4 linked regions of the Homo sapiens genome follow. The protein of the gene in region 1 purifies or fractionates together with the protein of each later gene. This does not show direct contact. Each region holds a gene or a part of one and is shown on either strand. Other genes may lie near its edges.

The links.
Region 2: the proteins of ALDH2 (region 1) and FGG purify together in Homo sapiens (affinity purification with mass spectrometry; 3 studies listed by BioGRID and IntAct, with this or other methods). This does not show direct contact.
Region 3: the proteins of ALDH2 (region 1) and GRPEL1 fractionate together in Homo sapiens (co-fractionation; one large-scale study listed by BioGRID). This does not show direct contact.
Region 4: the proteins of ALDH2 (region 1) and AARS2 fractionate together in Homo sapiens (co-fractionation; one large-scale study listed by BioGRID). This does not show direct contact.

The regions. Positions count from the first base shown.
Region 1 is NC_000012.12:111,797,933-111,801,432, forward strand, and holds part of ALDH2 (aldehyde dehydrogenase, mitochondrial isoform 1 precursor), read left to right. Parts: intron 1-145; coding exon 146-310; intron 311-1,901; exon of another isoform or gene 1,902-1,973; coding exon 1,974-2,131; intron 2,132-3,500. UniProt on the Homo sapiens protein: Required for clearance of cellular formaldehyde, a cytotoxic and carcinogenic metabolite that induces DNA damage.
Region 2 is NC_000004.12:154,603,671-154,606,663, reverse strand, and holds the end of FGG (fibrinogen gamma chain isoform gamma-B precursor), read left to right. Parts: intron 1-1,597; coding exon 1,598-1,830; 3' UTR 1,831-2,309; coding exon of another isoform or gene 2,310-2,324; 3' UTR 2,325-2,493; downstream 2,494-2,993. UniProt on the Homo sapiens protein: Together with fibrinogen alpha (FGA) and fibrinogen beta (FGB), polymerizes to form an insoluble fibrin matrix. Has a major function in hemostasis as one of the primary components of blood clots.
Region 3 is NC_000004.12:7,058,395-7,061,729, forward strand, and holds the end of GRPEL1 (grpE protein homolog 1, mitochondrial precursor), read right to left. Parts: intron 2,815-3,335; coding exon 2,468-2,814; 3' UTR 501-2,467; downstream 1-500. UniProt on the Homo sapiens protein: Essential component of the PAM complex, a complex required for the translocation of transit peptide-containing proteins from the inner membrane into the mitochondrial matrix in an ATP-dependent manner.
Region 4 is NC_000006.12:44,300,790-44,303,347, reverse strand, and holds part of AARS2 (alanine--tRNA ligase, mitochondrial), read left to right. Parts: coding exon 1-62; intron 63-172; coding exon 173-282; intron 283-437; coding exon 438-546; intron 547-834; coding exon 835-957; intron 958-1,177; coding exon 1,178-1,288; intron 1,289-1,883; coding exon 1,884-1,967; intron 1,968-2,081; coding exon 2,082-2,192; intron 2,193-2,558. UniProt on the Homo sapiens protein: Catalyzes the attachment of alanine to tRNA(Ala) in a two-step reaction: alanine is first activated by ATP to form Ala-AMP and then transferred to the acceptor end of tRNA(Ala). Also edits incorrectly charged tRNA(Ala) via its editing domain.

The sequences.
Region 1 (3,500 bases):
CCCTGTGTGTTTCCTCTTCTGATCTTGCTTTCTTATGACCTTGGTCCATTTCCCAGTTGTCTTGTTGCCTGCATAATTCTAAGCCTGAAGCCTAGGAGAGGTCTGAATCCGATGTCTCCATAACTCTGGGTTCCTTCTCCCACAGGTGGATGAAACTCAGTTTAAGAAGATCCTCGGCTACATCAACACGGGGAAGCAAGAGGGGGCGAAGCTGCTGTGTGGTGGGGGCATTGCTGCTGACCGTGGTTACTTCATCCAGCCCACTGTGTTTGGAGATGTGCAGGATGGCATGACCATCGCCAAGGAGGAGGTGAGCACTTGGGGCCAGTGCTCTGGAAACATTCTTGGCGGGAGGTGAGGTAAACAGTTCAGCCTGGCATCCTGATGCTGTCACCCATCTGCTGGCTTGGGGCCAGATCTCAAGTTATACCCAGAACCAGTGCCCATAACACGCTATTCATAGTATGTATCTGATCTTGTCCCTCCTCTTCAGCTTGTACCCTCTGTCTGGGAGATCGTCTGCATTCCTCAGCATGGCCTGCAGGCCTTGGTGTCCTGGCCCTCAGAGCCAGGAGTCTAGGAATGACATTGTCTGCTCCTTCCCATGACCTTTTTTCTTTCAGTCAGATTCTTGCTCTGTTGCCCAGGCTGGAGTGCAGTGGCATAATCATGGCTCCTTATAGCCTTGAACTCTTGGGCTCAAATGATCCTCCCACCTCAGCCTTCTGAGTAGCTGGGACTACAGGTGCTCACCACCATGCCTGGCTAATTTTAAAAAAATTTTTTAGTACAGGCTGGGTGCAGTTGCTCACGCCTGTAATCCCAACACTTTGGGAGGCCGAAGTGGGTGGATCACCTGAGGTCATGAGTTCGAGACCAGCCTGGCCAACATGGCAAAACCCTGTCTGTATTAAAAATAAGAAAAAATTAGCCCTGCGTGGTGGCGCTTGCTTGAAATCCCAGCTACTCTGGAGGCTGAGGCAGGAGAATCGCTTGAACCTGGGAGGCAGAGGTTTCAGTGAGCCGAGATCGCGCCACTGCACTCCAGCCTAGGCAACAGAGCGGGACTCTGTCTCCAGTTTTAGCCACGCCTGGCTAATTTTTGTATTTTTAGTAAAGACAGGGTTTCACCATGTTGATCAGACTAGTCTCGAACTCCTGACTTCGTGATCTGCCTGCCTCGGCCTCCCAAAGTGCTGGGATTACAGGCATGAGCCACCACGCCCGGCTTATTTTTTCTCTTCTCGTTTTGAGATGGAGTCTCACTCTGTCGCCAGGCTGGAGTGCAGTGGTGCAATCTCAGCTCACTGCAACCTCTGCCTCCCGGGTTCAAGCGATTCTCCTGCCTCAGACCCTACTAGTAGCTGGGATTACAGGCGCACACCACCACGCCCAGCTAATTTTTCTTATTTTCAGTAGAGATGGGGTTTCACCATGTTGGCCAGGCTTGTCTCCAACTCCTGACCTCAGGTGATCCACCTGCCTCAGCCTCCCAAAATGCTGGGATTACAGGTGTGAGCCATCGTGCCTGGCCAAAAATTTTTTTTTTTTTTTTGAGTAAAGACAGGGTCTCTCTGTGTTTGCCAGGCTGGACTCGAACTCCTAGACTCAAGCAGTTCTCCCACCTTGGCCTCCCAAAGTGCTGGGATTACAGGCATGAGCCACAATGCCCAGCTGACTTAAATTCTTTGACACTAAATCTACGTGTCACGTGTGAATAACATACCTGGCAGGATTGTTTAGAAATGGGATACTGTATGTAAAGCCCGGGGCGCACAGGAGGAAGTTGGCCCCTGTTAGCTCCATTCCCTCTGTGTTCTGCTGAGCTTGATGGCTGTTGTCTTCCCCTGGAACTGTTAGAGCATGGCTGGGGGCTTATCCCCCAATCTGGAATCATCTGTTCTGCTCTGAGAGAGCTCGATGGCAGGTGCCTCCGTGTTGCCGAACCCTCCTACGCTGCTCTCTCACTCCAGATCTTCGGGCCAGTGATGCAGATCCTGAAGTTCAAGACCATAGAGGAGGTTGTTGGGAGAGCCAACAATTCCACGTACGGGCTGGCCGCAGCTGTCTTCACAAAGGATTTGGACAAGGCCAATTACCTGTCCCAGGCCCTCCAGGCGGGCACTGTGTGGTAAGAGCCTCCCAGCAGCCCCTCACAACCCAACAGAGATTCCTCAAAGCCAGGGCCTACTGGAATCTGGTGGTCACCATCCTGGAATTTGGGGAGCTGGGCTCAGTTTCTCCTGGGTCAGGGTGTGATGTCGATTTGAGAGGTCCTGCTACCTCACCTCCGAAGGATCAAGCTTCTCTGTGGTGCAAAGGCCCTGCACCTGAACTTGGCAGGCAGCGGAGTGGTGGGGCTCCTCCCCAGCTGCCTCAGGGCAGGAGACCAGAGCAGAGGGACCCATGATTGTGACACTGATCCTAAAAGCTTAGCCTCTGCTTCACACTTAGCCCCCACTAGGATGGCTATATTTTTATTATTTATTTATTTTTAGTTTTATTTTTTCAGACAGAAAAAAATATTCTACCCAGGCTGAAGTGCTGTGGGGTGCGATTATAGCTCACTGCAGCCTTGAACTCCTGGGCTCAAGCAATCCTCCCACCTCTGCCTCCTGAGTAGCTGGGACCACAGGTGTGTACCACCACACCTGGACAATTAAAAAACATTTTTATTTTTTGTAGAGATGAGATCTCGCCATGTTGCCCAGGCTGGGCTATATGTATATATATTTTAAAGTATTGGTAAGGATGTGGAGAAATCGGAACCCTCCTATGTTGCTGATGGGAATGGAAAATGGCACACTCATTGTGGAAAATAATTTGGGAGCTCCTCAAAAAGTTAAACATGAAGCCCCCATATGACCCAGCAATTCCACTCCTAGGTATTTATCCAAGAGAAAGAAAAACGTGCTCCCACATAAAAACGTGTATATGAATCTTCACAGCAGCATTATTTGTAACAGCCAAAAGGTGAACACAACCCAAATGTCCGTCTGTAGATGAATGGATACAGAATGTGATCTGTCCATGCAATGAAATGTGGCTCAGCCACAGAAAGGAATGAAGTAGCTGTATGAGTCTGTTCTCACACTGCTGGTAAAGACATTGCAGAGACCGGGTAATTTATAAAGGAAAGAGGTTTAATGGACTCACACAGTTCCACGTGGCTGGGGAGGCCTCACAATCATGGTGAAAGGTGAAAAGCATGTCTCACGTGGTGGCAGACAAGAGAAGAGAACTTGTGCAGGGAAACTCCCCTTTATAAAACCATCAGATCTTGTGAGACTTACTCACTGTCACAAGAATAGCATGGGAAAGACCTGGCCCCATGATTCAATTACCTCCCACAACACGTGGGAATTGTGGGAGCTACAATTCAAGATGAGATTTGGGTGGGGACAAAGCCAAGCCATATCAGTAGCCATGCATGCAATAGCATGGATTAATCTTGAACATAACATTGAGTGAAAGAACCCAGACTGTCTGGGTGCGGTGGC
Region 2 (2,993 bases), on another chromosome or scaffold:
ATACTATTTTCATAAAAAATAATAAATAGATATGAAGAAATGAAGAATAATTTATAAAGATAGTAGGGATTTTATCATGTTCTTTATTTCAACTAAGTTCTTTGAAACTGGAAGTGGATAATACCAAGTTCATGCCTAAAATTAGCCCTTCTAAAGAAATCCACCTGCTGCAAAATATCCAGTAGTTTGGCATTATATGTGAAACTATCACCATCATAGCTGGCACTGTGGGTTGTGGGATCTCCTTTAGACATACAACATAAATGATCTGGATGGATTAACATTACTACATGGATGCTTGTTGACACATTAACCTGGCTTCCCATGAGCTTTGTGTCAGATACACGCAGTGAACAGGTGTTTGGAGGAACAGAATAAAGAGAAGGCAAGCACTGGTAAGGGCAGGGGTTTGTGAAAGCTTGAGAGAAGAGACCAGTCTGAGGACAGTAGACACTTATTTTAGGATGGGGGTTGGATGAGGAGGCTATAGTTTGCTATAAGCTTGGAATGGTTTGGAACACTGGTTTCACTCACCTACCCAGCAGTTATGTGTGGGGAAGCCTTACCGATGCTAAAGGATCCATGTTACAATAATGGCATTATTTGGAAATCCCAGTGGTATTCCATGAATAAAACCACTATGAAGATAATCCCACTCAACAGACTCTCCGTTGGAGAAGGACAGCAACACCACCCTGGGAAAGCCAAACAGTCAGACCAGACCTGTTTAGCATCAGTAGGACTTCCCTACCATATCTGCTGGGTAGATGAGTGAAACCAGTGTTCCAAACCACTCCGGGCTTGTAGCAAACCATAGTCTCCTCATCTACCAAGATGAGCAACCTTACCTCCTGATGTCCTAGCCAATCACCAACTAGGAAACTTTGCACAGTTTATTTAAAGTAACAGTTTGATTTTCACAATATTTTTAAATTGGAGAAACATAACTTATCTTTGCACTCACAAACCACATAATGAGAAGAAACTCTAAGGGAAAATGCTTGATCTGTGTGACCCGGGGCGCCATGCCAGAGCTGTAGTTCATGCCAGTGTTGTGCTCTGACAAGCCTTTTACAGAATTACATGAGATCTGCTTCCCTAGGACAAGGAGAAGGCAAATCAACAGAGGCTGCACTTTAAAATGGAGACATAAAATAACATGCCAGAACCATTTCCTAAAGCTCCTCAATCAACCAACAAAATTGTGCTTTCAAATAACCTGAGTTGACCTCATCAGGAATTTTGTGGCTCCTTCTCTTCTAACCTGCCTGAAGAAAGATGGTCCACAGCAGCTGAGTCCGGGATGGATAAGCTTAGGGACAGAGGCCAATTAGGGAACTTTGGGTTTCTAGCCCTACTAGTAGTGAATAAATTTAAAGTGTGGATGTGACTATGAGTCACAGCACAGATGTTGTTTAATAATATGTTTATTTTATAAATTGATATTTTAGGAATCTTTGGAGATATTTTCAGTTAGCAGATAATACTATAAATTTTATGTAACTGGCAATGCACTTCGTAATAGACAGCTCTTCATAGACTTGCAGAGGTAAAAAGATTCCAGAATAATGATATGTACATCTACGACTTGTTTTAGGTGGCACTTACTCAAAAGCATCTACTCCTAATGGTTATGATAATGGCATTATTTGGGCCACTTGGAAAACCCGGTGGTATTCCATGAAGAAAACCACTATGAAGATAATCCCATTCAACAGACTCACAATTGGAGAAGGACAGCAACACCACCTGGGGGGAGCCAAACAGGTCAGACCAGAGCACCCTGCGGAAACAGAATATGACTCACTTTACCCTGAGGATGATTTGTAGAAAATTAACTGCTAACTTCTATTGACCCACAAAGTTTCAGAAATTCTCTGAAAGTTTCTTCCTTTTTTCTCTTACTATATTTATTGATTTCAAGTCTTCTATTAAGGACATTTAGCCTTCAATGGAAATTAAAACTCATTTAGGACTGTATTTCCAAATTACTGATATCAGAGTTATTTAAAAATTGTTTATTTGAGGAGATAACATTTCAACTTTGTTCCTAAATATATAATAATAAAATGATTGACTTTATTTGCATTTTTATGACCACTTGTCATTTATTTTGTCTTCGTAAATTATTTTCATTATATCAAATATTTTAGTATGTACTTAATAAAATAGGAGAACATTTTAGAGTTTCAAATTCCCAGGTATTTTCCTTGTTTATTACCCCTAAATCATTCCTATTTAATTCTTCTTTTTAAATGGAGAAAATTATGTCTTTTTAATATGGTTTTTGTTTTGTTATATATTCACAGGCTGGAGACGTTTAAAAGACCGTTTCAAAAGAGATTTACTTTTTTAAAGGACTTTATCTGAACAGAGAGATATAATATTTTTCCTATTGGACAATGGACTTGCAAAGCTTCACTTCATTTTAAGAGCAAAAGACCCCATGTTGAAAACTCCATAACAGTTTTATGCTGATGATAATTTATCTACATGCATTTCAATAAACCTTTTGTTTCCTAAGACTAGATACATGGTACCTTTATTGACCATTAAAAACCACCACTTTTTGCCAATTTACCAATTACAATTGGGCAACCATCAGTAGTAATTGAGTCCTCATTTTATGCTAAATGTTATGCCTAACTCTTTGGGAGTTACAAAGGAAATAGCAATTATGGCTTTTGCCCTCTAGGAGATACAGGACAAATACAGGAAAATACAGCAACCCAAACTGACAATACTCTATACAAGAACATAATCACTAAGCAGGAGTCACAGCCACACAACCAAGATGCATAGTATCCAAAGTGCAGCTGGAGACAGGAAAGCTGCTTGGGGAGTCTCCCAGCAGAACCTTTTAGCTCCAAACACCTGTGGTGGGACCTGGTCACTCTGAAAGGACTGCAACTCAGAGCAGAGAGCTTTAGGGAGCTATTTGCCCTATCTCTCACTAGTCATGAGGTGAGCTGAATGGAACCATCTCTTCCTTC
Region 3 (3,335 bases), on another chromosome or scaffold:
TGCTGGGATTACAGGCGTGAGCCACTGCACCCGACCTAAAGTTGCTTTCTCTTAAGCAGAGACCCTTTCGTGCCAGGTGCTCTCCTCCCTCAAAGCAGCAGTACAGCCAGAGAAAGCCAAATGGGTCTGAGTCTTTCAGGAAGCCAGGCCGACTTTTCAGATGCCTCTGAGACTTCCAGTTCTGGTTTTCACTGTTCACACGTGACACTTCACTCATGCTGCAGTTATGCTAAATCCAGTAACTACTAGAAGGTAGCTAAACAAATCTTTAATTCCTACTGTAAATATGCACATAATTAAAAGACATTTTCCTATTACAGGTTGAGTATCCCCAAATCTGAAAGGCTGCAAAATCTGAAACTTTCTGAGTGCCTACATGGTGCTCAAAGGAGATGCTCATTTAGAGCATTTTGGATTTTGGGATTGGGGATACTTAACCAGCAAATACAATGCAAATAGTCAAGCAGAGAATCTCTTTTCAGTCAATGAGGGGCCACATATTAGAACACAGTTTGCACTGTACCTTTACTATGTTATGTTCAGATACACAGATACCATTGTGTTAACAGTTGCCTACAGTATCAGTACAGTAACGTGCCCTCCAGTCTAGAGCAACAGGCTACATACACCATATAGCCTAGGTGTGGAGGAGGCTCCACCACCTGTTTTTTAGGTCCATGTAGGTACACATGGTGTTCACAGGAAAAACTGCCTGACAGCGCATTTCTCAGAACACATCCCTGTGGTTAAGCCATGCTTGACTATATTCCAAAATCCGAAAACCCCCCAAGTTTGAAACAATTCTGGTTCTAAGCATTTCAGATGATAACCAACTTATAGTGACTATGGATGACTGAAGCTTACTGTAAAAAAATATTTTGCTACTTAAGCTATATTGCCTCTAGGTTACGAGTTAAGTGCTTTTTAGCAACTGCAGCTGTAGTTGAGACGGTAGGAGACTGCAAACATTCACAGAAATGAGTTGATAAATTACTTTTCTTAGCCTCCATTTAACTCGGGAGCTCCAGGGGTGATGATGCACTCACAACCCCACAGCGTGAAAACAGGCAGCGCTGGAGCTCCCAGTCATGTTTTCTTCAATACACGATGCTGCCTTTAGTTGTTTCTGACCAAATTAACTTAAGGCATCTTAAAGGTGGAACATGTTTGGGAATGGTATCCCAAGATGAAGTATTATGGGACCATTACTTGCGTCTTTTAAAATTAGAAGTGAAATAAACTGCCCCATCTTTCCTGTGCAGCAAATGGCTTTCACAAGTATCTTCCATTCTAGAAGCAAAGGCAGCGAAAGGTTCTTTTCTCTTTTTTGTAACAGACGCCAATCATTCAGCCTTTTTCTAAGCCCTGGATGACCGTGTAAATGAGGAACAGCCCTTTGGCAAGATGATTTTGCAAATCCTGTGCCCTTGCTGTGGCTCCTGGGTGTTTCGTATTCTTACCGGACGGGCTGCAGCTGCACTGGGGGAGTGTGGCTCTCCCTTTCTGTGTAGAAGCCTGTATATGTGTGTACGTGAATGTGCACGCACGCACGTGTCAAGCTGACAGCTTCTGGGCTGGAGTAGAGAATGGGAAGGCTAAGCCATGCTTGCCTCAGCGGCAAGGATCTCCATGAGAGGACACAAAATTGTTTTCAGAAAGTAGGAAAATAAACATTAGGGCTTTAATCCTCTTAAATAAAAATTTTAAATTAAACATTAACATTTAAAGTACACCAAGCGTGCAGTCCTATTTTGAGAAAGTCCATTTTGCCAGGGAATACAACTTGAGGTCATTAGTAACTAGTTGAATATGATTTAAATATGTCTGCATTTAGATGAACAGAACAGGGTAAAAGGAACTTTGCCAAGCCAAGCTCAATTCCTGGCCAAATAATGGGGGAGAACTGTCAGTGCCCACACCCATTTCTCAGTGGTCAGTTTCAGCCGCTGTTGACTGAAGACAAACGAACTCACTATGTTCTTCACAAAGATCATTTTTTTTAAGTAAGAAAAATGTTTCAACTCTCTTGCCTTTCCTTCAGCGAATGAAATGTGACGGGCTAAATACGCCAGTCACTCATGCGCCGCAGGGACACATGGTGCAGACTGGCGTGCCCAGGTAGCCAAACAGAATTCCCCAAGACCTTTTATTTGTTTAAAATACTTTGGTGTCAGCAGAGTCTGAGCAGACACGTTACTCATGATGCTCGGGAGACCAGGCAGGGCCCTGCTGAGCTCTTCTGAAAGTATGTGGAACTATTCAACGCGTGGCACTAAAAGGGAACAGACTCCCGAATTAGAGTTCATTAATGCAGTTGGGCAACCGGCTTTTCTGTTTAGCCACTGGTTACTTAAGGTTTCCAATAAGGTTTGGGAAAAGGTCACACGTACTCATAGATGAGAAACAATGAACCAGCCTTGAGAGTTACATCAAGTGAGTTTAAAAACACCCACCCCATCAACAGCAGCTAAGCTTCCTTCACCACCCCCACCAGGGCGGGTCTCAGAGTGCGCCCATGCAGCTTGTACCCCACTTTGCTAACTAGGGCCACTGTGCCTGGCTCCTTCCCCTCAACCGGTGTGTGGAACAAGGCCTCATGTTCATAAGGGTCGAACTTGGCTCCGACAGGGTTCAACTTGAGCAAGCCATGCTTTGTGAACACCTTCTGGATCTGGACTTCAGTCATGACCAGCCCCTCATAGAGGTTCTTCAGGTGAGGGTTATCGTCTTTAATTTCTTCTTTTGGAACACACTGTGTTGCCTTCTCCAGAACGTCTGCCACCTCCAACAAGTCCTTGCAGAAGGCTTGAATGCCTGGATGAAGTTAAAGAAGATCATTTGCACTCCATACCAACCGCACAGGGCAATTCCAAACTGAGCACTGCTGACCTGATGTGGAGGCTATTTAGTAACTTGTCAAATCAATCGCCTCAGAATTCCAATGGCTCAATAACTTTAAAAAACAACACAAAACTCTCAAAAGCTACTTGTGGGATGAGACCCAGAATTTACTAAATTTAGAATTCACTAAAATGTGAAGAAAGGAGTGCAGTAGAGGGGAAAATACCCTTGAGACATCCAAGCCCAGATGTCAAGCAAGCAGTAAGATTTAGGGGACTGGAACTCGGAAGATCCGAGTTTGAAGCTGAGACTTGTGTGTGGATGCCACTAAGCCCGTAAGAGTATGTAAGTCACCCAGGGAGCACAGCAAGGGGAGAGAAGAGGTCTGGTACTGAGTCCCAAGAGCCCAGGCATTTACAGGTCGGAAAGGGTAAGAACCAACAAAGCACATTACCACAAAGAGAGGCGGAATACCAAGAAACAGGCCACAGTAT
Region 4 (2,558 bases), on another chromosome or scaffold:
ACATGGAGGAGGTGCCCCTGGCGCTCACTGCCCAGGTCCCTGGCCTGCGCTCTCTGGATGAGGTGAGTTGGGGAAGCCCTTTTGCTGGAGATCGGGGGCCTCCTTCAGGCATACCTGGAGGCTTTATCCTTCTCCTTTGGCAGTTAACGGGCCTGTCCCCTCTTGACCTCAGGTTTACCCAGACCCTGTGCGGGTGGTATCAGTGGGGGTGCCCGTGGCCCATGCATTGGACCCAGCCTCCCAAGCCGCACTGCAGACCTCTGTGGAGCTATGCTGTGGGACGTGAGTCACTCCTTTGTGCTGCCTGGCCCAGGGGCCCCGGATCCTTGCCCTTCCCTTGGTCTTTGGAGCCATCAGCCCTTAATGGGAGATGCACGCTGGCTTCTCCCTTCTCTACTGTCATGCCCCGACTTTCTGTTCACTCCTTCCTCCCACAGGCACCTGTTACGTACTGGGGCTGTAGGGGACCTGGTTATCATCGGGGACCGCCAGCTTTCCAAGGGCACTACCCGCCTGCTGGCCGTCACTGGGGAGCAGGCCCAGCAGGTCAGCATGCCAGTAGGCCTGGGACTTCTGGGTTGAGTGGGTGCATGGGACACACGCAGGTGACATGCTCAGGCTCAGGGGTGCCCAGCAGCAGAGCCAGTGTTCATACTTGGACACCAATGTGGCCATATCAGCTATTGGCAGCTGGCATGTGTTTTGATTATTTGGTGCTGGTGCCTTGATTGGTCCTGATTGTTAAATCTTATTTGTCCCTGACCAGTAATGAGTTGAGAGGCCTTGTCCTGGGGAGATGAATGTAATCCTGACCCTCCTGTCCCCTCCCTGCAGGCCCGAGAGCTAGGCCAGAGCCTGGCCCAGGAAGTGAAAGCGGCCACTGAGCGGCTGAGTCTGGGGAGCCGGGATGTGGCGGAGGCACTGAGGCTGTCCAAGGACATAGGACGACTCATTGAAGTGAGGGCCACGCCTACCACCCCACCCTCTCCTAGCCCTATTACCTCCCCTATTCCTCCCTGGACTCCTTCAGACTCTCCCTAGCACTCCAATTGGGTTGGGCTCCAGCTGGCCCAGATATTTGTCTGCAGGGTGGGTGTCTTCCCTGGCCCTGCTGGTCCCTACCTCAGAGACTATGGCTCAGGGAAGGGCAGGGGTGATGTACTGCTTCTGGCCATAGGCTGTGGAAACTGCTGTGATGCCCCAGTGGCAGCGGCGGGAGCTGCTGGCCACAGTGAAGATGCTGCAGCGGCGTGCCAACACTGCCATCCGTAAGCTGCAAATGGGACAGGTGAGAGGAGGTTTGGCTGCACCCATGTGCCCAGAGACACTCCAGCAGATACACTGAGAAGTCTCAAGGGCTGGGGCATGGGGGTGAGTCAGAGGCTGTGCAAGGACGGGGTGGTGGCAGCTTCCTTCTCCTGCCAGCTGAGAACCATCACCCAGGCCATTCCCCCACTTCTGTCTCTTTCAAACTGTGTTTCTCCCCCAACTCCCAAGTCTGGCTCAGAACCCCCGGAAGCCTACTGACTTGATTAGTGCCATTCAGCCCTGATTGCACCTCCACTGTGGATCCCCCTTTCTCCCGCCCACTCCTGGTCCATCTGTGCTCTGACCTTCCTCCTTTCACCTTCAGCGACCTATTTGTAGGGGCCTGAAGCTATGATGAAAGGGAAGTGGTGAGGGAAGTGAGGAAGGACACATGTGGGACCCAAAAAGGAGGCCACCCTAGGCAGAGTCCCTGCCACCTCTGCCTAGAGCTAATGACTTTTGGGGTGGGTGGGGGAAGCAGGGGATTGCTCAGCTGGGGCTTAGTTCAGAAGTTGGGGCTAATTGGAAACCTGCCTCTCAGCCTGACCCCTCTGCTTGTCCTTCCTGCCCCATAGGCTGCAAAGAAAACTCAGGAGCTGCTGGAGCGGCACTCGAAGGGGCCTCTGATTGTGGACACAGTCTCTGCTGAGTCTCTCTCAGTGAGTGCTAGCCAAGCCGGGCTGCCCCAGGGTCTGGGGAGGGCAAAGTCCTGACCAGGAGACAGCTAGGGGTCTGGGAAGCGATGGGCTCACCATCTGTCTTTCGTGGTCCAGGTGCTGGTGAAGGTGGTACGGCAGCTGTGTGAGCAGGCCCCCAGCACGTCTGTGCTCCTACTCAGCCCCCAGCCCATGGGGAAGGTGCTGTGTGCCTGTCAGGTGGCCCAGGTGAGGGAAGTGGGAGAGCAGCCCACCGCCCCCATTAATACCCATCCTGGTCCAGCTCTCTGATTTTACACCTTTAATTCCTCCCAAAGGGGCCAAGGCTGGGTGGAAGTATCTATGAGGATACTCCAGGACAGGGATGGGGAATCTCCTTGTTCCTGAAAACAGCCCCTCCCCACCCCAGAAGGCACCAAGAGATTCCTTAATTCCTAACCCCTCCCAGGCCTCACATCCCTTGTAAACAAGTAGCAGATGTTCACGTTCATACACCTCCCCACACACATTTCCAGCCCAAACCTTCTCCGGCTCATCACCTGACTGCCCCACCATGTGCCCAGCTGGGAAGGGGGCACTGATGACCTTCAGCTC